3 linked regions of the Homo sapiens genome follow. The protein of the gene in region 2 purifies or fractionates together with the protein of the main gene of each other region. This does not show direct contact. Each region holds a gene or a part of one and is shown on either strand. Other genes may lie near its edges.

What was found.
Region 1: the proteins of SLC27A6 (region 2) and PCDHGB5 purify together in Homo sapiens (affinity purification with mass spectrometry; 2 studies listed by BioGRID and IntAct, with this or other methods). This does not show direct contact.
Region 3: the proteins of SLC27A6 (region 2) and TTC4 purify together in Homo sapiens (affinity purification with mass spectrometry; 3 studies listed by BioGRID and IntAct, with this or other methods). This does not show direct contact.

The regions. Positions count from the first base shown.
Region 1 is NC_000005.10:141,393,903-141,400,991, forward strand, and holds the start of PCDHGB5 (protocadherin gamma-B5 isoform 1 precursor), read left to right. Parts: upstream 1-4,044; 5' UTR 4,045-4,225; coding exon 4,226-6,622; coding exon of another isoform or gene 6,623-6,682; intron 6,683-7,089. Other genes in the region: PCDHGA8 (protocadherin gamma-A8 isoform 1 precursor), read left to right, coding at 1-1,335. UniProt on the Homo sapiens protein: Potential calcium-dependent cell-adhesion protein. May be involved in the establishment and maintenance of specific neuronal connections in the brain.
Region 2 is NC_000005.10:128,960,462-128,968,524, forward strand, and holds the start of SLC27A6 (long-chain fatty acid transport protein 6), read left to right. Parts: upstream 1-5,026; 5' UTR 5,027-5,676; coding exon 5,677-6,157; intron 6,158-8,063. UniProt on the Homo sapiens protein: Mediates the import of long-chain fatty acids (LCFA) into the cell by facilitating their transport at the plasma membrane.
Region 3 is NC_000001.11:54,718,861-54,725,860, forward strand, and holds part of TTC4 (tetratricopeptide repeat protein 4), read left to right. Parts: intron 1-2,302; coding exon 2,303-2,380; intron 2,381-3,814; coding exon 3,815-3,939; intron 3,940-7,000.

The sequences.
Region 1 (7,089 bases), about 12 Mb from region 2:
ACAGTAATTGCCTTCTTGAGTGTGCATGACCAAGACTCTGGAAAGAATGGTCAAGTTGTCTGTTACACACGTGATAATTTACCTTTTAAATTAGAAAAGTCAATAGGTAATTATTATAGATTAGTGACAAGGAAATATTTGGACCGAGAAAATGTCTCTATCTACAATATCACAGTGATGGCCTCAGATCTAGGAACACCACCTCTGTCCACTGAAACTCAAATCGCTCTGCACGTGGCAGACATTAACGACAACCCTCCTACTTTCCCTCATGCCTCCTACTCAGCGTATATCCTAGAGAACAACCTGAGAGGAGCCTCCATCTTTTCCTTGACTGCACACGACCCCGACAGCCAGGAGAATGCCCAGGTCACTTACTCTGTGACCGAGGACACGCTGCAGGGGGCGCCCCTGTCCTCGTATATCTCCATCAACTCTGACACCGGTGTCCTGTATGCGCTGCAATCTTTCGACTATGAGCAGATCCGAGACCTGCAGCTACTGGTAACAGCCAGCGACAGCGGGGACCCGCCCCTCAGCAGCAACATGTCACTGAGCCTGTTCGTGCTGGACCAGAATGACAACGCGCCCGAGATCCTGTACCCCGCCCTCCCCACAGACGGTTCCACTGGCGTGGAGCTGGCGCCCCGCTCCGCAGAGCGTGGCTACCTGGTGACCAAGGTGGTGGCGGTGGACAGAGACTCGGGCCAGAACGCCTGGCTGTCCTACCGCCTGCTCAAGGCCAGCGAGCCGGGACTCTTCTCGGTGGGTCTGCACACGGGCGAGGTGCGCACGGCGCGAGCCCTGCTGGACAGAGATGCGCTCAAGCAGAGCCTCGTGGTGGCCGTCCAGGACCATGGCCAGCCCCCTCTCTCCGCCACTGTCACGCTCACCGTAGCCGTGGCTGACAGCATCCCCGAAGTCCTGACCGAGTTGGGCAGTCTGAAGCCTTCGGTCGACCCGAACGATTCGAGCCTTACACTCTATCTCGTGGTGGCAGTGGCTGCCATCTCCTGTGTCTTCCTCGCCTTTGTCGCTGTGCTTCTGGGGCTCAGGCTGAGGCGCTGGCACAAGTCACGCCTGCTCCAGGATTCCGGTGGCAGATTGGTAGGCGTGCCTGCCTCACATTTTGTGGGTGTTGAGGAGGTACAGGCTTTCCTGCAGACCTATTCCCAGGAAGTCTCCCTCACCGCCGACTCGCGGAAGAGTCACCTGATCTTTCCCCAGCCCAACTACGCAGACATGCTCATCAGTCAGGAGGGCTGTGAGAAAAATGATTCTTTGTTAACATCCGTAGATTTTCATGAATATAAGAATGAAGCTGATCATGGTCAGGTGAGTTTAGTTCTTTGCTTGCTTTTAATTTCCAGATGAATTTTATTTGGCATAAATTATGTTTTGAAAAACATTGTGAAGATAGTTGAAAATAATTTTTAAGGTGTATCACAGAGTTTTGGGTTTATTTTGGTGGTGTTACTATAAAATTGAACTCTAATAGTCATAGGTTATTGTTTCATTTGCTTTTAAACGACTTGGAAAAGATTGTTCAACCATTTTAAGCCTTCCAGTATTTTATTCCTATTATCACTCATTCACTTAAGAAGTAGCTACCCGTCCATACTGGTAATTTTGCTATTGTTTGTGTGTGTGTGTGTGTGTGTGTGTGTGTGTGTGTGTGTGTGTGTGTGTATCCCAAACTAGAACTTCAGAAAATTATCAAGAAGTCTAAAGCCTTGTTATTAGCTTAGCAAAAGTAAAATATATCTCAGAATTTTTAGGGTTATGTTTAGCATTTGAACCTGTAACTAGGCTCTTGTAGATTTCTTCACTTTAAACCTCTTTTCTGAGCCCTGTTTCTGTACCAGTGCCCTTCAAAACTTTAATACTTCTTACCATCCTTCAAAACATGAACAAACTTTAAAGATGGATCTTGGTGGGAGATGAGACTGGTTACTAAATATTAAGTATGTGAGTCAGTGGTCACCTGGGCTCCATGCCCATGGAGACATGAAATCTAAAGCCTAGAATGTCCATTGCTCCCCCAAACAAAAAACAAAAGCAAAAACATTAGATCTGAATTAAAATGTAATTTTAAACTGTTGAAAGTGACTTTTGTAAAATATGTAAGAACATATTTCAATACAATTCCAATTAGCTGTTTCGGTTGTGCATTGATGTGAAGTGGTGAGAATGTTGATATTAAGAACCAATGTTTCAGGTACACAAGTTCTAAATAAGCTGATCAATTCAATTAAAGTTATTCAGTCTTGGCTGGACACAGTGCCTCATGTCTGAAATCCCAGCACTTTGGGAGGCTGGGGCAGGAGGACCGCTTGAGCCCCGGGGGTTTGAAACTGCAGTGAGCTATGATCATGCCACTGCACTCCAGCCTAGGTGGCAGAACTAGACCCTGTCTCTAAAAAAACTATTATTAGGCCGGGTGCGGTGGCTCACGCCTGTAATCCCAGCACTTTGGGAGACTGAGGTGGGTGGATCACCTGAGGTCAGGAGTTCAAGATCAGCCTGGCAAACATGGTGAAACCCCGTCTCTACTAAAAACTACAAAAATTAGCCAGGCATGGTGGCATGCGCCTGTGGTCCCAGCTACTCGGGAGGCTGAGGCAGAAGAATCACTTGAACCCGGGAGGTGGAGGTTGCAGTGAGCCTCGATCCTGTCACTGCACTCCAGCCTGGGCAACAGGGTGAGACTCCGTCTCAAAAAAAAAAAAAACTAATATTAATAGTAAAAACTCGGTATAGGCTATCCATTATTGTATTCCTGCATACCTTCTTGTAGCATTTGAATAAAGCTAATACCTGAATTGATTGTTGTAAGGTAGAAGTAGATGACCCAATAAATGTTTGTTATTAATGAAAAGGACATTTCCTAAGGATTGTGTAGTGTTCTACTGTATGGTGCATATTCAGTGGAGTGGGAGTTAACTTCATAGTTTGTGTACCATTTGGATGCACATTTGAGAGGACAACATATTATTGGCACTTTGCAATTTTAAAAACTCGGATGAAAGTTGCCCTGGTAGGAAAGAAAATCCTTACTCTCCCTAAAAATGTTGGCTAGTTGTTTTTATTAATCTGACAAATGGACTAAAGAAGGTTGACCAATGTCCACAAATTTATGTAAATGAACTTATGAGCTTCATTTATCCAATTCCAAAGTCATTTCAGATAGGATAATAATGCAATCCACTAGAATATCCCTTTGTACCTTGTATTGCAGAATAGATAAGCATTTCCCCAATAACTCTTAAGAATGAATTTATGTACTGTAAAAGATATGACATAAGAGAAGTATTTTGAGATATGAAGAAGAGCAACGTAGTAGGGTATATCATTTCTTAGCTACATCATATGGGCAGTATACTTGAATGAATATTTCCTGAAGTAGAAGAGTAAAGAAAAATTATTTTTATAAAGAATGTTAATATAGTCAGGAAGAGGAGATGTTTGGGGATTGGTATAAAATTGCCACAACTTTACAAAATAGTTTTAAATAGTATAGATTTCCCTAATATGTGTAATATAAAACACTAGAAATATTGGGGAGTTGGAAATCATAGAAATGAACAGAAGAATGATAAAATTGTTTCCATAGCTAATAAAAAATGAATTTTTGAAATCAGTATAGTATGAAGGCTCTGAGAGCAAGAACTGTATCATATTAATTATTATATTGCCAGTGACAAGGGCAATACTTAGTTCTAGCTAAGAGTTCAAGGTATGTTTGCAGAATGGTGAAAGAATGGACCAATGTATGCAGGTTTGTATAAAAACCCAACGTGATATTTCTAACAATTTGGAAAACAGAGAAAGATACCTTAAAGAAGTTGTTATAATTTTTTATTAAGTATATGGACGTAAAAACTTGGCTTGTTAAGTTAGGCACACAAAAACAATTACTGCACTGGTTAACTTGAAGCCGCAGAGGCTGTAGTTTCCTAGTGCTGACTCTGGGCGCCGCTGTTGGCCAAAGTGCAGAGCTTGGCGCTCCAGATCTCCTCGCGCAGCCGCAGCGCGCTTTCCAGGGCAGCCCCAGCTCAGACTCCCCAGCGCCGGCCTTTACACCGCTTCCTCCTCGGAAAAAGAATCGTTTCCTAAACTGGAACTGGAACTAAAGCCCGTTCGGAGATCCAAAAATCTACAATACAGAGGTTATTTGTAACCTGGCGTCTCCAGGCTGGTGAGCAAGCTGAGGAGAGCAAGAGGGATGGGGAGCGGCGCCGGGGAGCTGGGCCGGGCTGAGAGGCTGCCAGTGCTCTTTCTCTTCCTGCTGTCTTTGTTCTGCCCGGCGCTCTGTGAGCAGATCCGCTACAGGATTCCCGAGGAAATGCCCAAGGGCTCCGTAGTGGGGAACCTCGCCACGGACCTGGGGTTCAGCGTCCAGGAGTTACCGACTCGAAAACTGCGCGTCAGTTCGGAGAAGCCTTACTTCACCGTGAGCGCAGAGAGCGGGGAGTTGCTTGTGAGCAGCAGGCTAGACAGGGAGGAGATATGCGGGAAGAAGCCAGCTTGTGCTCTGGAATTTGAGGCTGTTGCTGAAAATCCACTGAACTTTTATCACGTGAATGTGGAGATCGAGGACATTAATGACCACACGCCAAAATTCACGCAAAATTCCTTTGAGCTGCAAATAAGTGAGTCTGCACAGCCTGGCACAAGATTTATACTAGAAGTAGCAGAAGATGCAGATATTGGCTTAAACTCTCTGCAGAAGTATAAACTCTCTCTTAACCCAAGTTTCTCATTAATAATTAAGGAGAAACAGGATGGTAGTAAATACCCGGAACTGGCACTGGAGAAAACCTTAGACCGGGAACAACAGAGTTACCATCGTTTAGTCCTGACTGCCTTGGACGGTGGACATCCACCCCTAAGCGGCACCACTGAGCTCCGGATCCAGGTAACCGACGCCAATGATAATCCCCCGGTATTCAACCGAGACGTGTACAGAGTCAGCCTTCGGGAAAACGTGCCACCAGGCACCACTGTGTTGCAAGTGTCAGCCACTGACCAAGACGAGGGCATCAACTCAGAAATTACTTATTCCTTCTACAGAACCGGGCAAATCTTTAGTCTGAATTCAAAGAGCGGAGAAATTACCACTCAAAAGAAACTGGATTTTGAAGAGACCAAGGAATATTCAATGGTTGTAGAAGGGAGGGATGGTGGTGGACTGGTTGCACAATGTACAGTTGAAATTAATATTCAAGATGAAAATGACAATAGCCCAGAAGTTACATTCCATTCTCTACTTGAAATGATTCTGGAAAACGCGGTGCCTGGAACACTAATTGCTTTGATCAAAATACATGACCAAGATTCTGGGGAAAATGGGGAGGTTAATTGTCAATTACAAGGCGAAGTCCCTTTTAAGATTATCTCTTCATCCAAAAATTCGTATAAGTTGGTAACAGATGGAACCCTAGACCGAGAGCAAACCCCGGAGTACAATGTCACCATCACAGCCACAGACAGGGGCAAGCCGCCCCTCTCCTCCAGCATAAGCGTCATCCTACATATCAGAGACGTCAACGATAACGCTCCGGTTTTCCACCAGGCGTCCTACTTAGTCAGTGTACCCGAAAACAACCCTCCTGGGGCCTCCATCGCGCAAGTCTGCGCCTCGGACCTGGACTTGGGGTTGAACGGCCAAGTCTCCTACTCTATCATGGCCAGCGACCTAGAGCCTCTGGCACTGGCCTCTTACGTGTCCATGAGCGCGCAAAGTGGGGTGGTGTTCGCGCAGCGCGCCTTTGACTACGAGCAGCTGCGCACCTTCGAACTCACACTACAGGCCCGCGACCAGGGCTCGCCTGCGCTCAGCGCAAACGTGAGCCTGCGCGTGTTGGTGGGCGACCGAAACGACAACGCACCGCGGGTGCTGTACCCCGCGCTGGGTCCCGACGGCTCTGCGCTCTTCGATATGGTGCCGCGCGCTGCAGAGCCCGGCTACCTGGTGACCAAGGTAGTGGCCGTGGACGCAGACTCAGGACACAACGCCTGGCTGTCCTACCACGTGCTGCAGGCTAGCGAGCCCGGGCTCTTCAGCCTGGGGCTGCGCACAGGAGAGGTGCGCACAGCGCGTGCCTTGGGCGACAGGGACGCGGCCCGCCAGCGCCTGCTGGTTGCTGTGCGTGATGGTGGACAGCCGCCACTCTCCGCCACCGCCACGCTGCACTTGGTCTTTGCTGACAGCTTGCAGGAGGTGCTGCCGGATATCACTGACCGCCCTGTACCCTCTGACCCCCAGGCTGAGCTGCAGTTTTACCTAGTGGTGGCCTTGGCCTTGATCTCAGTGCTCTTCCTCCTGGCCGTGATTCTGGCCGTTGCCTTGCGCCTGCGACGCTCCTCCAGCCCTGCCGCCTGGAGCTGCTTCCAACCTGGTCTCTGTGTCAAGTCTGGACCTGTGGTTCCCCCCAACTACAGTCAGGGGACTTTGCCTTATTCCTACAACCTATGTGTTGCACATACAGGAAAGACGGAGTTTAATTTCCTAAAATGTAGTGAGCAATTGAGTTCAGGACAAGACATACTTTGTGGTGATTCATCTGGGGCCTTATTTCCACTTTGTAATTCCAGCGAGTCGACTTCCCATCCTGAGTTGGTGAGTTTCATTTATGTCTATTCTTTTTCATTACCCACCCAATTTTCTGTATTTACATGAAACTATCGTACATTTTCAAGTCCAATGAGTTGTCTTAGGGAAGTCAGAGCTGCTCAGAAAGCTGTCCTACCATTCTTTAAGAGGAGCAGTAAATTGTGAGTTTTTATGTCGCATAAAAGAAGTAGCCTTATAGATTTACAAAGTAGTGAGAGTTTGCTCTTAGCTTCCTCTCTAGCAAAAACATTTGGTGCGTTTTTTTGTCCTCTTTCTCAAAGCTAATGAATTTTACCTATTCGTTGTCTCATTCTTTAACATGTTTATATTTTATTGTATGTAGATAAACCATTAAATTTAATGTATGTAATCATTTAATTCATCTTTTAAAGCAAAGAAACTGCTAGTAGATGTCTTTCTTCACTGATTTCACTGGTAGTTTTCATCTCTTTCTTATGTTCCTCATATATGCT
Region 2 (8,063 bases):
GTAGCCTTCTTTTCTCTTTTGATCTTTGTTGGTTTAAAGTCTACTTTATCCGAGACTAGGATTGCAACCCCTCCTTTTTTTTGTTTTCCATTTGGTTGGTAGATCTTCCTCCATCCCTTTATTTTGAGCCTATGTGTGTCTCTGCATGTGGGATGGGTATCCTGAATACAGCACACTGACGGGTCTTGACTCTTTATCCAATTTGCTAATCTGTGTCTTTTAATTGGAGAATTTAGCCCATTTACATTTGATGTTAATATTGTTATGTGTGAATTTGTTCTTGTCATTATGATTTTACCTGGTTATTTTGATCGTTAGTTGTTGCAGTTTCTTTCTAGCATTGATAGTCTTTACAATTTGGTATGTTTTTGCAGTGGCTGGTATCAGTTGTTCCTTTCCATGTTTAGTGCTTCCTTCAGGAGCTCTTATAAGGCAGTCCTGGTGGTGACAAAATCTCTCAGCGTTTGCTTGTTTGTAAAGGATTTTCTTTCTCCTTCACTTATGAAGCTTAGTTTGGCTGGATATGAAATTCTGGGTTGAAAATTCTTTTCTTTAAGAATGTTGAATATTGGCCCTCATCTCTTCTGGCTTGTAGAGTTTCTGGCGAGAGATCCACTGTTAGTCTGATGGGCTTCCCTTTGCGGGTAACCCGACCTTTCTCTCTGGCTGCCCAAAACATTTTTTCCTTCATTTCAACCTTGGTGAGTCTGACAATTAAGTGTCTTGGAGCTGCTCTTCTCGAGGAGTATCTTTGTAGCATTCTCTGTATTTCCCAAATTTGAATGTTGGTATGCCTTGCTAGGTTGGGGAAGTTCTCCTGCATAATATCCTGCAGAGCGTTTTCCAACTTGGTTCCTTTTTCCCCCTTCACTTTCATGTACACCAATCAAATGTAGATTTGGTCTTTTCACATAGTCCCATGTTTCTTGGAGGCTTTGTTCGTTTCTTTTTACTCTTTTTCCTCTAAACTTCTCTTGTCACTTCATTTCATTAACTTGATCTTCAATCACTGATACCCTTTCTTCCACTTGATAGAATCAGCTACTGTAGCTTGAGCATACGTCACGTAGTTCTTGTGCCATGGTTTTCAGCTCCATCAGGTCATTTTAGGTCTTCTCTATGCTGTTTATTCTAGTTAGCCTTTTGTCTAATCTTTTTTCACTGTTTTTAGCTTCTTTGTGATGGGTTTGAACATCTTCCTTTAGCTCAGACAAGTTTTTTATTACCAATCATCTGAAGCCTTCTTCTCTCAACTCGTCAAAGTCATTCCCCGTCCAGCTTTGTTCCATTGCTGGTGAGTAGCTGCGTTCCTTTGGAGGAGAAGAGGCGCTCTGATTTTTAGAATTTTCAGCTTTTCTGCTCTGGTTCCCCCCATCTTTGTGGTTTTATCTACCTTCGGTCTTTGATGATGGTGATGTACAGATGGGGTTTTGGTGTGGATGTCCTTTCCGTTTGTTAGTATTCCTTCTAACAGTCAGGACCCTCAGCTGCAGGTCTGTTGGAGTTTGCTGGAGGTCCACTCCAGACCCTGTTTGCCTGAGTATCACCAGCAGAGGCTGCTGAACAGAAAATATTGCAGAATGGCCATTGTTGCTGCCTGATCCTTCCCTGGAAACTTCATCTCAGAGGTGCACCCGGCTGGATGAGGTGTCAGTCGGCCCCTACTGGGAGTTGCCTCCCAGTTAGGCTACTCGGGGTCAGGGACCCATTTGAGGAGGCAGTCTGTCCATTCTCAGATCTCAAACTCTGTGCTGGTAGAACCACTACTCTCTTCAAAGCTGTCAGAAGGGGACATTTAAGTCTGCAGAAGTGTCTGCTGCCTTTTGTTCAGCTATGCCCTGCCCCCAGGGGTGGAGTCTACAGAGGCAGGCAGGCCTGGTTGAACTGAGGTGGGCTCCATCTAGTTTGAGCTTCCTGGCCACTTTGTTTACCTATTCAAGCCTCAGCAATGGAGGATGCCCCTCCCCCAGCCTCGCTGCTGCCTTGCAGTTGGATCTCAGACTGCTGTGTTATCAGTAAGCGAGGCTCCGTGCACGCCTCTTATTTTTAATGTTCGGTTTGCTTCATGAGTCCTTGTGTCGAATACTATTCTGGGCAATGATTATTCATTAATACAAATAAACATTAGATTATAGGAAGAGTAAGCTTCCCATGATAACCGAAGTTATTATCAGATCCTAAAAGCAATAATTAAAAACCCTGTTCCCAGGTAGAATTGTAAAGTGGATGACTCCTGCATCCAGCATTCTCCCATTCATTTTTAGAGCCATCCAACTCCCTCAGTCACTTCACTGCCATTCCCTTTCCCAAGCCCCGGCTGCCGTCTAGATAGTCAGAGCTTCTTGGCCCATTGCAAGCACTCATCATGATGTTTAGCCACCAACCCAGCATTGTTTGGCATCTTTCTAAATTTCTTGGTTTTCACTCAAACCTCCCATAATCCAAATGATGACTGCTATAGAATTCCATCAGAAGACTTATGAAGACAAGTGATTTGACAGCAAAGAGTCAGAATTCTTAGGTTACAGTGGCAAAATCCTGTAGGCTCCATGTCTGTCATATATTGCTATTTGTTCAGTCTTACTTTGATCTACTCACTAAACAATTCATCCTCTATAGAACTGAGGGTGCAAAGGTGGTTGGTAGTGGGTTAAAGAGGAAAGTCAAATCAGAAATGAAGAAGAGGTTGAAGAGACCACATGTAGATTAAAAATAAACTTTTTTGGGGCATTGATTTTCATTTAGTCACAATATTTTTATTTTCAAATAACATTAAAGAAAAACAAACAGTCTTTATGTTTTTTAAAGGAGAAGCAGAGAAATATTACACTATTCCTAGTCAAAAGTAATGTTAGCAGGAATGTCTAGACTATTTCTATGTGTTTATTTCTCTTTATTTTAGTTAAATGATAGATTTACTCACTTGCAACTAACTCTTGCTATATTTCTCCCATTTCAAAATTCTTAAACTATTGTAGCTAAAAATTGTATCTATTTTACTTAGCTGCCTTTGGTAGCATTTGAAAGTGAATGCAAAATTTCTGGACAAAATAGAAACAGGTACATGGGCTAATATAGGAATATACACAATACTGTTAACTGTCCCAAGATTTTTCATTGATTATGTCTTCCATGGTGAGATTTCAGGCATAAAATTGGTTTGGGTTAGTACAAAGTCTGGCCCAACATATGCTTACTTGTAGTTCTTCCTAATAAGTCAAACAAGCTCACATTTATGGTGCTGAATATATTCTAGATTCATTGTATCTGTAGTTGCTAAAAATTTAGTTCCATGCCTTAGGATGGTATTAGAATGTCCATGATAAGAAAAATAAGTGCAGCAAAATAAAAGAAATGCCACGCCTATCTTTCTGTATTATTTTTTCCACTGGAGAAGGACAGATTTTACTCATTAAAACTACAAAAGTCTGAGACCAACTGCTCCATATTCTTTTGTGTTCGTTAAATGTTGTTATTTGGAGGTGACTTAATTAGACTAAAGCTAGAAGAGAAAACAATAGAATGTCAAAGATGCTTTTCAAGTTGTAAACTAATGTTTTAAGTTATAAACTACTTGATACTATTTTCTTAATTAAAAAGATATTTCTGAATCGAAAAGATCAAAGCTTCTGAGTAAATTTAGAAAGCATTTTTTTGTCATTTACAGAAAAGGGCTTTAAGAGCCTATGTTCCTTTGGCTTTAAGAGCTCTTCACTGTGACTTCAAAGTAATCATTTTCAGATTAATAAACTGGAGCTCGTCTTTGGAATTATCAGTTTTTCTTTTATTACAGAATCTGAGGTTAGCCAGAATCCATCTGCAGAACATGAGGCAGAAGGGAGAAACACCTAACAAGGTGAGGCCTTCCTTAACTATTTTAACACAAGCAATTAACCATTTATACTCACTTAAAAGCAGACAGCTGGGATGATGGTGTCTGCTAAAAAAAAAAAGTGTAATGAAATGTTCTTTAGTTTTTTGATCTTTAGTAAAATTTCATCTTCGTATAAAATTTTATTAACCATTCCACTAACTTGTTACTTCTCCACTCCACCTCCCCACTCCCTTTAGAATCCTTAGTTTGAAGACATAATTCTTTAAATGATCTGTCTCAGGGAGGGGGGATCTTGTTACTTTTAAGGACTGCAAATAGCATTATAAACTTTGTTTTTATTTTTAAATACGAATATCGACTGAAGCTCTCAAATCAATCAATATTGTTGCCAAATTTTGTAAAACGCACTGTCTTAGCTCTCTAACGATAGAGTTCTAATATAAATGTAAAAACCAACCTATCAACATGTTTTCAAAAATACTTTTTGTAAAGAACAGTACAATTTTGTGGTGTCCAAATATTCCTTTCTTTCTTACAAAATATTATTGGATCTGTCCAGTTCATAAATATTCCTGCCCTCTCTTCCTCCCTCCCTGCCTCTCTCTCCCTGCAGTTTTTTTGATGTTTGTTCTTTTCTTTCCATTTTCTAGTTATTAATTGGTTCAATGGATGACCTTTGTGCGACACTGTTATACCTTATCAGCCTCGCCAGGGCCCCCGCGCCGCCCAATCCCAGCAACTCTGGTTCTCCTGTGACCCCAAGCCTTCCAGATCCCTGGGTTTCCCCCCACGGGACTGTCACATTCTTCCCCGCCGGAGACGCCAGTCGCGGGGCCTCCTCCCTGGGGTGTGAGCAGGTCGGCGCGCCACACTTCTCTAGGTGGCCGGACGCGCGCCCAGGGAGGAGCTGGCGGCGGGGCCCAGGCTGTTCCGGCTGCGGCACGCCAGGGGATGTGGTTAGCCCTGAGCCTGGAGGCCGAAGGTGGGCAGGCAACACTCCCACCATGTTTCGGAGGAGAATACACTAGGCTAGCCTAACGACACTCGGAGTGCGAGCTGCGGCTGGGGTAGGGGCACCCCTTTCCAGCGGGCGCGTGGGTCACCAAGGAGCAGTTCTCCGGGACCCGTTGCGTCAGAGGGACTGGGCGGGGCTGGGCGGGGCAGGACGGGGGCGGCGCTCAGGAACCCTGGAACCCGCTGGCCCTGAGGCCACGGACCGAGACGTGGTGCTGAGCCCCTGCGCGGTTTCTGGTGCGTAGAGACTGTAAATCGCTGCGCTTCTCAGTCATCATCATCCCAGCTTTTCCCGGCTCGAATTCAGCCTCCAACTCAAGCTCGCGGGAAAGACTACCTGAGAGGAGAAAAGCTTCTGTCCCTGGACCTTCTTCTGAGGGTGGTGAGGTTTGTTTAGGGTCGCAGAAGCAGGGAGGACTGACTCAGCCCTCACAGAGAAGAGGTCTGGAAAGTCCTGGGGAACTCGCAGGGCACGGGCCGCTGTCGCGGTTGGGAGGCGAGGGCGCAGCGCTGGGGTTGTAGATTCCAAGACCCCTGAGGGTGGCTGTGTTGGTTTCTCGCAGGAGTCGGAGGCTCCCTGCTTTCCAGCCGCCCAGTGACCCAAGCTTAATCTTCAGCACCACTTGGGGCGACCTTTTCGGTGCAAACCTACGATTCTGTTTCTCAGGATTCCTCCCCATCCCGCTTCGCCCCGGAAAAGCTGACAAGAACTTCAGGTGTAAGCCCTGAGTAGTGAGGATCTGCGGTCTCCGTGGAGAGCTGTGCCTGGAAGAGAAGGACGCTGGTGGGGGCTGAGATCAGAGCTGTCTTCTGGCCCAGTTGCCCCCATGCTTCTGTCATGGCTAACAGTTCTAGGGGCTGGAATGGTCGTCCTGCACTTCTTGCAGAAACTCCTGTTCCCTTACTTTTGGGATGACTTCTGGTTCGTGTTGAAGGTGGTGCTCATTATAATTCGGCTGAAGAAGTATGAAAAGAGAGGGGAGCTGGTGACTGTGCTGGATAAATTCTTGAGTCATGCCAAAAGACAACCTCGGAAACCTTTCATCATCTATGAGGGAGACATCTACACCTATCAGGATGTAGACAAAAGGAGCAGCAGAGTGGCCCATGTCTTCCTGAACCATTCCTCTCTGAAAAAGGGGGACACGGTGGCTCTGCTGATGAGCAATGAGCCGGACTTCGTTCACGTGTGGTTCGGCCTCGCCAAGCTGGGCTGCGTGGTGGCCTTTCTCAACACCAACATTCGCTCCAACTCCCTCCTGAATTGCATCCGCGCCTGTGGGCCCAGAGCCCTAGTGGTGGGCGCAGGTAGAGTATGGGGTGTGGTCTGCCTATACAGAATGGCAGCCCACCTGCTTTCATACCCTTTTTTTTTTCTTTAGGATAATTCGTAACTAATATTTTGGGTGAGTGAAGTGTGCATGTTAAGAGTACAAAATAGTTTTATGATTCTATGCTGGTTTAACAACTGTCTCCTCCCTTCAGGCACGTAGTTTCAGAAAACTTTTATGAAATCTCTGCTTCCTACCATTTTGAGACAGGGACAGTTTTACTGCTATTGGTTCCTTCAGTGAGTGCAAGAACACACAGAGAACTTGGTCACTTCTAAATTTTATCAGCTCTGACAAAATGGTGAATAGGAAAGTTATCTGACTTCATTGTGACACGTCTACCTACCTCTAATTGTACTTTATCAGGGATGACTACATTTGCAGAAGAGATATGTTTAAAGGAAGGTACCTGAATTCCTTTCTTCATGTCTGCTCTTATTTTATACTGTCTGCAAGCTAGGACTTGCCTAGCAAGGTTGCGCTCCCACCTGTGAGCCAGAACGTGGGCTCTTGGCAGACTCTAGGAGCCTTTCTGTTTCTTCTTCTTATCCTTCCATGCATCCTTTTCTTTTTTTGACTAAGTTCTACCCTTCCTCCTCCCCCTGCCTTGGAGTTAGGACATCTTAGGCTACACGTATTTTCACTGAACTGTAAAGAAAAGCCTGGGGTTTAGTGGCTAATTAGTAAAGAAGCTAGGAAGATGGGTTGCTTAATGAAATAGAAGTGAAATATGAAAAATGATACTTATTTGGTGTAATCTAAATGGTTTATGCAGAGTCTTCTTCAATGGGGAAGGAAGGTGCGGAAAGAGGAAGATCCATTGCAAGGACCATAATGAAAATATTTAAGTATTTTAGATTAATAGATACATACCAATACCTTGTATAAAGTTTTTAAACTCACAGAACAATATGGAAAAATATATTTATACCCTGGTGATCTCTAAGGTATAGAACTTTTCAAATAACCTTTATGATATAATATTTGTATATCAAACCAAAGTGAGTTAGGCAGTATATGGAAAATGGGCTAGCCCTTCAAGGCTATCACTGTTCCTAGTTCTTTTCAGTTCAACTTGTGGTCTGATAAAGTGGCAAATGTATACTTTTTCTTATTTATTATTATTTTTTATTATTATACTTTAAGTTCTAGAGTACATGTGCACAAAGTGCAGGTTTGTTATGTATGTATACATGTGCCATGTTAGTGTGCTGCACCCATTAACTCATCATTTACATTAGGTATTCCTCCTAATGCTATCCCTCCCCACTCCCCCCACCCCACGACAGGCCCTGGTGTGTGATGTTCCCCACCCTGTGTCCAAGTATTCTCATTTTTCAGTTCCCACCTATGAGTGAGAACATGTGGTGTTTGGTTTTCTGTCCTTGTGATAGTTTGCTCAGAATGATGGTTTCCAGCTTCATCCATGTCCCTACAAAGGACATGAACTCATCCTTTTTTATGGCTGCATGGTATTCCATGGTGCATATGTGCCTCATTTTCTTAATCAAGTCTATCATTGATGGACATTTGGGTTGGCTCCAAGTCTTTGCTATTGAGAAAAGTGCCGCAATAAACATACATGTGTGTGTGTCTTTATAGAGGCATGATTTAGAATCCTTTGGGTATATACCCGGTAATGGGATGGCTGGGTCAAATGGTATTTCTAGTTCTAGATCCTTGAGGAATCACCACACCGTCTTCCACAATGGTTGAACTAATTTACACTCCCACCAACAGTGTCAAAGTGTTCCTATTTCTCCACATCCTCTCCCGCACCTATTGTTTCCTGACTTTTTAATGATCGCCATTCTAACTGGTGTGAGATGGTATCTCATTGTGGTTTTGATTTGCATTTCTCTGATGGCCAGTGATGATGAGCA
Region 3 (7,000 bases), on a different chromosome or scaffold from region 2:
AAGTGATCCACCTGCCTTGGTCTCCCAATGTGCTGTGTACTCAGTGGACCTTTTCAGTCTGGAAACTCATGTTTCTAGGACATTTTCCTGAATGCTTTGATATTTTTCTTTTTCTTTTTTACTCTTTTTTCTCTTTTTGGAAATCCTGGCTGCTGGTACTTTGGGAACCAAGTAGGAGAAGAGGACCAAGGGCTCAATCTTTAATATTTCCTTTACTGAATCACCTTTGTGCCTGGGGGTTCCAGTCCAGAGACCTACTGTTTTATTGTCTGCTAGGGTAAACCTCCAGTCCTCCACCTGGAGGAACAGGGGAGGAGTAGGTCACTGGTGCAGCAGAGGGGTAAGGAATATGGGACTCTGACTGCTTCTTAAGTAGATTTTCAACCCACCTTCACCCCCACTTCCAGAGGTACCTGGTGCCATCAGTTCCTGAGTCCTGAGTACTTTGTAGTTTCTGCAGTGCAGCTTGGTAGCTTTTGTGCTTTCCCTCTACTGGTTTAGAATTCAGTTTCCTTAAGCCTGATACATCAGTTACTTGTTCCTTTGTTTTCCAGCTTTCACAATGTGTTCTGTGTTCTTCTCATTTTCTTTGTCTTTATGGGAGAGAGAGTGGGGATTGAGTTAAATGTATGTGTTCAATCTGCCTCCTTTAACTAAAAGTCCTTGGATCCCTTTCATGTGCATTTTTTTCCATGGTTGAGATCCTGCTGTTCTTCCAGTTTGATATTCAGTTTTTTCACTTAATTTTATAACAAACAATTTCACCGTCATTAAAAATCATTTCTGAATGTTATTTCAATAGCTAAAGTTGCATCATATGGACATGCCACTATTTATACTGTTTGCTTTATTAGTCTGCTATTGTTGAGTATATAGACTGTTTTTTGGTTTTTATAAATAATGCAAAAATAAATAAAGTCATAATATTTTTCTGATAATTCTGATTATTCATTAGGCTAAAGCACGATTTGGCAAACTAGGACTCAGAGTCCACCCCTGGCCCCTTGGCTTGCCATGAACTAAAAATGTTCCATACTTTTTTTTTTTTTTTTTTTAAAGTGACAGGGTCTTACTCTGTTCAGGCTGGAGTGTACTAGCTGTGATCATAGCATAGTGCAATCTTAGACTCCTGGGCTCAAGCAATTCTCCCACTTCTGCCTCCCGAGTAGGTAGAACTATAGGCATGTACCACCATGCCCAGCTAATTTTTAAAAAATTTTTTGTAGAGAGAGAGTCTTGCTATATTGCCCAGGCTGGTCTTGAACTCCTGGTCTTAAGCAATCCTCTCACCTCGGTCTCCCATAGTGCTGGGATTGCAGGAGTGAGCCACCTCCCCAGAGGTTTCTTACATTTTTCAAGAATTGTAATAAAATGAAGAAGAATGTGCAGTAGACCACATGTGGCCTGCAACACCTAAAATATTTATCTGGCCCTTTACAAAATATTTTGCTGACCCCTGGGCTAGAGATTTAGGTAAATACTAAACCATTAAGTAATAATTATAGTATACTCCAGAAAGTTAAAGTATACCTCATGGCTTGCTAGTTTGGATAACTGGTATGTGTGTGACTGCATACTTTTTTTTTTTTTTTAATGCACTTACAAATATATACATGTGTGTCTAGATATTTAGTTTTTTTTTTTTTTTAAATAGGCTTCCTCTATACTCATAGAACCACCACTTAAAACAATATAGAACAGACATCCTACCGTGTTTCTTACATGAGGATCTATCTCATTCTTTTTAATGGCTGCATAGTATTCAATAGTATGGATTTACCATAATTCATGTAATCATTACCAAATTGAGGATATTTGAGTTATCTCCAGCTTTTCACAATTAAAGTAATGCTGTAGTTAACATGCTTTTACATTTATCCCTGCACATTTGTTCAAGTATTTTTGATAATTTTCCAGAAGAAAATTGTTGTGTCAAAGTATATGTACAAAATACATGCTAATTTGCTTTCTAATTTACCCTGAGAGTACCCCTTTTCCATATCTTTTCTAATACTAGATATTATTTGTCTAACTTTTAGCAATTTCTTAATTTTAATTTCCTAATCATTAGTGATGTTGAACGTCTTTTCATGTGCTTACTAGCCATTTACAGTTCTGTAGATTGCCTGTTATAGACATTTCTAAGGCTCTTGACAAGTACAACCATATTTTTTCAAAAAAACAGTTGCTCTCATTTGTATTTCCCCAGGATTGTACAAGAGTGTCTTTGTCACTACATATAAAATTTTGGAAACATTTTGATCTCAAAACTTCTCTCTTTTACTAAACGGTGTTTTGTTAGGCAATTTTCGTTCTGCTCTCAATGATGTGACAGCTGCCAGAAAGCTAAAACCCTGCCACCTCAAAGCAATAATAAGAGGTAAGTCTTGTGGAACTACAGTATGACATTTAAAGCTTTGATATGAAGGTGCTAGGATACTAATAAAGTCATCTTATTTTTGCAGTCTGGGTATTAAGTTCCTGTTCCTTATCAACAGCAACATGCCACTTTTAAAAGAATTCCTCAGAGAGTGACTTAACCCTTTATGTAATAATAATTTGTAGAGAACTAGAAGCCCCTCATTTTAAATTAATAAAAAATAAAATTAATTAAAACAAAGCAGTTGCAAAGCCATATTCTGATTTTTTTTCCAAATTAGCTGATTGAAAGGCAAGGTCTTCAAATGCCATGTTAATGTTAATTAAAAGATAAGTTATGGGACCTTTGCTGATGACTTTGGTGCTGAGATGTTCTCAGATTATGTTTTCTCTTGTAGTCTGACCTTTCTATGTAATAACAGTGCTTTTATTACTTTTATACTTCACCTTTTCTTTGAGAAGCTCATAGGTGCTTTGCAAACTTTAATTTATTCATCACATATTAATCTTCCCTGCATCCCCATGGACCAGCTTAAAATGCTTTTTCAAAATTATGCCTCTTTAAATGTTCATGGTTAAGGGCAGTAGGAAGATCCATGTCCCTCAGCTGTAGGAAAAGAAGGTACTGAACAAAGATTGGCTGATAAATTGAATCTAGGTAATCCTGTGGAATTTGCCTCAGGCTAGAAGTGTGTAATCCTTGATTCAGTTGTTGGTTTAATTTACAATGTGACCTTGGCAAGACACCCACTTTGAATATCAGTTTGCTCATCTCTAGAAGATGGGGTTAGAATCTGTTGGCATCTAAGCCCTTACAATGCTTATATTTTGAAATTCTGTGGAAAACCTAAAGAGGCTAACTGGAGAAAAATGTACATGATAACATGAAATTTTTTTTTTTTTTTTTGATGGGGGAGAGGCAGCTTAAACTGGTAGCCATAAAGAACAAAATTAGGAGACACCTAATGTTTTTGGCCTTGCCACTGCCTTGATGAATAGCTGAAGCAAAGTCTGCTTTTTCCCTCCATTGAAAAAATCATCTGGGATGGACTTTATTCTTCCTGTTTGCAGATGAGGAACCTAAAGCTTGGATATGCTTGGTCCTTTGTCTAAGGTCTAGCTGGTAAATGACACAGCCAGATTTCTAGCCTTGATCTATCTGGTTTGCCACTAAGTTATAGCTTTTCCTACTTTAAGAGCCCTTAATACCAGGGAGACTTACAGGAGTTTTGAACTAAATGGACCTTAGGGATTTTTCTGATTTAGGACACAAAAAGTATTCTCCCTTGTCTGGGGACTGCAGTATAAGGGGCATTATCCTCCATTTTGCCTTCAGGGTACTGGCTGGTAGTTGGTGGGGGATGGGAGATCTTGCCCAAAGCAGGTTCTTTCCATGCATGTTTTTCTTGAATCCTAAGGGTTCTGGGTTCTGCAGGTGCCTTATGCCATCTGGAACTGAAACACTTTGCCGAGGCCGTGAACTGGTGTGATGAGGGACTGCAAATAGATGCCAAAGAGAAGAAGCTTCTGGAAATGAGGGCTAAAGCAGACAAGCTGAAGGTTGGTGACTGTCAGCAACCAATTAGCATTTGCTAATTAGCAGTAATTAGCATTCCCAAGATTGTGTCTCTCAAGTCATTGTAAACTTTTTAAAAACAAAACCCAAAACTAGTCCCTACTCCTGGAACTCTGTGGAGCACACAGACAAGTAAACAGTTATAGTGTGATATAGAGGTAAGCAAGGATAGATGGTGTGTATAGTGGTAGTACAGTCATGTGCCACATAACAGTGTTTCATTCAATGATGGAACTCCGTATATATTACAGTGGTCCCATAAGATTATGATGCCATATTTTAACTGTGCTTTTTCTGTGTTTAGATGTGTTTAGCTACACAGATACTTACCATTGTGTTACAGTTGCCTACAGGATTCAGTGTAGTTATGTGCTTTACAGGTTTGTAGCTTGGGTGCAATAGGCTGTACCATATAATCTAGGTATGTAGCAGGCTATACCATCTCAGTTTGTGTAAGTACATTCCATGATGCTTGTACAACAATGATTGTGCATTTTTCAGAATGTATCCCCATCAATCTGAATGGAGACACGTCTTGTCCAGGGCAAAATTAGATACCATTACTATATACAGTCACATAACAATGTCACGTGTTCAGGGCCAGCTAAAGACTCCCAGTGTATATTATATACTCCCATTCCGTAGTATAAGCCATGAAGAGAGACCTAAACCAGGAATTAAGAGACCTTAAGACTAGTTCTGGCTTTCTATTAACAGGCATGTAAGACAGTATTACACAGTGGCTAAGAGCTTAGACTCTGGAGCCACTGCCTGAATTTGAAGACTCCCTTCATGACAGTTATGTGACTTGGACAACTTGCTGATCTCTTTGTGCTTTAGCTACCTCACTAGTAGAAGGAGAATTAAAATATTTCCTACCTTATAGGGCTATTATATAGTTTAGATGGTTTAACGTAAGGAATGTTTTTAAATAACACCTGGAGCACACACACAGTAGTGCTATTTAAATGTTGGATATTATTTTGGGTAGTGATGGTATTCTGTTATTATTACTGTTTTTAATCATCATTTTAGCTGTTATGTGCCAGAAATGTCATATATCATCAGCAATGACCAGAGGTCATTCTGGTCATATGAAATGGTAGAAAAGGTAGATCTCTATGGACCCACATGGCTCAATAACAGAATTCTGAGCCTAGGTAATTGGGTATGGCCAGAATTTCTGAAAGTGGTATATACAGGAATGAATGTCTAGAGGGCTACTGGGGACAGTCACAATTAAAGGGAGATTTCAAGGCCCAGAAGCCTGATATTAGGTCTAGGTGACATTACTTGCTGAATAGCTGAAGTATTCCCCTGTGTCTGAGTACAAGCTGATTCTGGGTTCCTATGTGCTTGGCATATAGCCAACAGACTTGTGGCTATGTTAATATCAGACAGAGTAGACTTCAAGGCAGCAAGTGTTACCAGAGATGAAGTGAAGCTTTTTTTCTTTTTTTTTTTTCATGAGACAGAGTCTTGCTCTGTTGCCCAGGCTGGAGTGCAGTGGCATGATCATGGCTTCCTGCAGCCTTGACCTCCTGGGATCAACTGATCCTCCTGCCTCAATCTCCTGAGTAGCTGGAACTACAGGCGTGCACCACCATGCCAGGCTAATTTTTTTTTTTAATTTGTAAATTTGTAGAGTTGGGGTTTCACTATGTTGCCCAGGCTGGTCTCAAACTCCTGGGCTTTAATCCTCCTGCCTTAGCCTTCCAAAGTGCTAGAATTACAGGCATGAGCCACTGTGCCCAGCCACTGAAGCATTTTTTTAAATGATAAAAGGACCAGCTTATAAGAATATTTAACAATTCTAAATGTGTAGGCACCTACTAACAGCTTCAAAATGCATGATGCAAAACTTGACAACTCAAAGAAGGAAGAGACAAATCCACAAATAGGTGGAAATATCAACTATCTCAGTAATTAATAAAACCAGTATTTAAAAAATAGAGAGGGGTAGTGTCAATCACAGTGGTGGACTAAAGACCTTTACAATTTTTCTCCTCCATAAAATCAATGAGGAAACTGGCAAAAATGATCAGAATTCACTTTTCTAGGACTCTGGAAATGAACCAGAGGTTTGCAGCAATCTGGAGCATGTTTATTCAAGAAAAATGTTGGAACCTCAGTAAGAACAGCAAGCTTTGTGACATTTTAACTTGCTCTATTCTCATCTCCCTCCTCTCCAGTTCCACAGTAGCCTTGAAAGCCAGTAGCCCACAGTCATGGTGAAAATGAGCAGCCTGCAGCCACCAGAGGAGGCAGAACAGGGTTGGAGCTCTTTCAAAGCCTTTTCCCAGAGAACTGTGATGATTTGACCATCTGGTAGATCCCTGGAAGACCCCGCTCACAGGGCTATTTTTATATGACCTGACTTGGAGCTTACCCAGTATAAAAAGCTTTTTTACATAGGGCCAGAAAATAGGGGGAATGAAAAGGTGGGAGAGAATTTGTCAAAAAACAATTAGAGGCAATTGTTAAAGATTGTAGAAGCTGAAGCAGTGGATAACACTGGAGCAAACAATAGGTGCATCATAAAGCTTAAAAGGAAAAACTGGGGAATGAAATTCTGTGGGGGCTCCGAAAAGCTCCAGTATTCCTGAAGATCTAGATGGTCACACATGTGCCCAGGGCTATACATGTGCTCAGGAAAGACCTGAGAAGACCCTAAGCTCTCAGAGTCTCTGCAAGAAGGAAGTGAAGGCTAAGGTAGAATTGTAAACTGCTTGGGTGAATGCTAAAAATGTGCTTCAACATGTACACAAAGCCTCTTGACAAAGATTGGAAGACTTACTGTCTGGTCATTAGCTAGAGGAAGCCTAGATGTGGGACTTACTAGACAAAGACTTTAAACCAGCTAATTTAAATATCTTCTCAGAATGAAAGGAAATAGTGTCTAAAGAACTAAAAAAAGTATGAGAATGATGTCTTTCCAAATAGAGAATATCAACAAAGAGAAGTTACTAAAAAGAACTTAACAGAAGTTCTGTAGTTGAAAAGTACAATAACTGAAATGAAAAATTCACTAGAGGGGCTCAACAG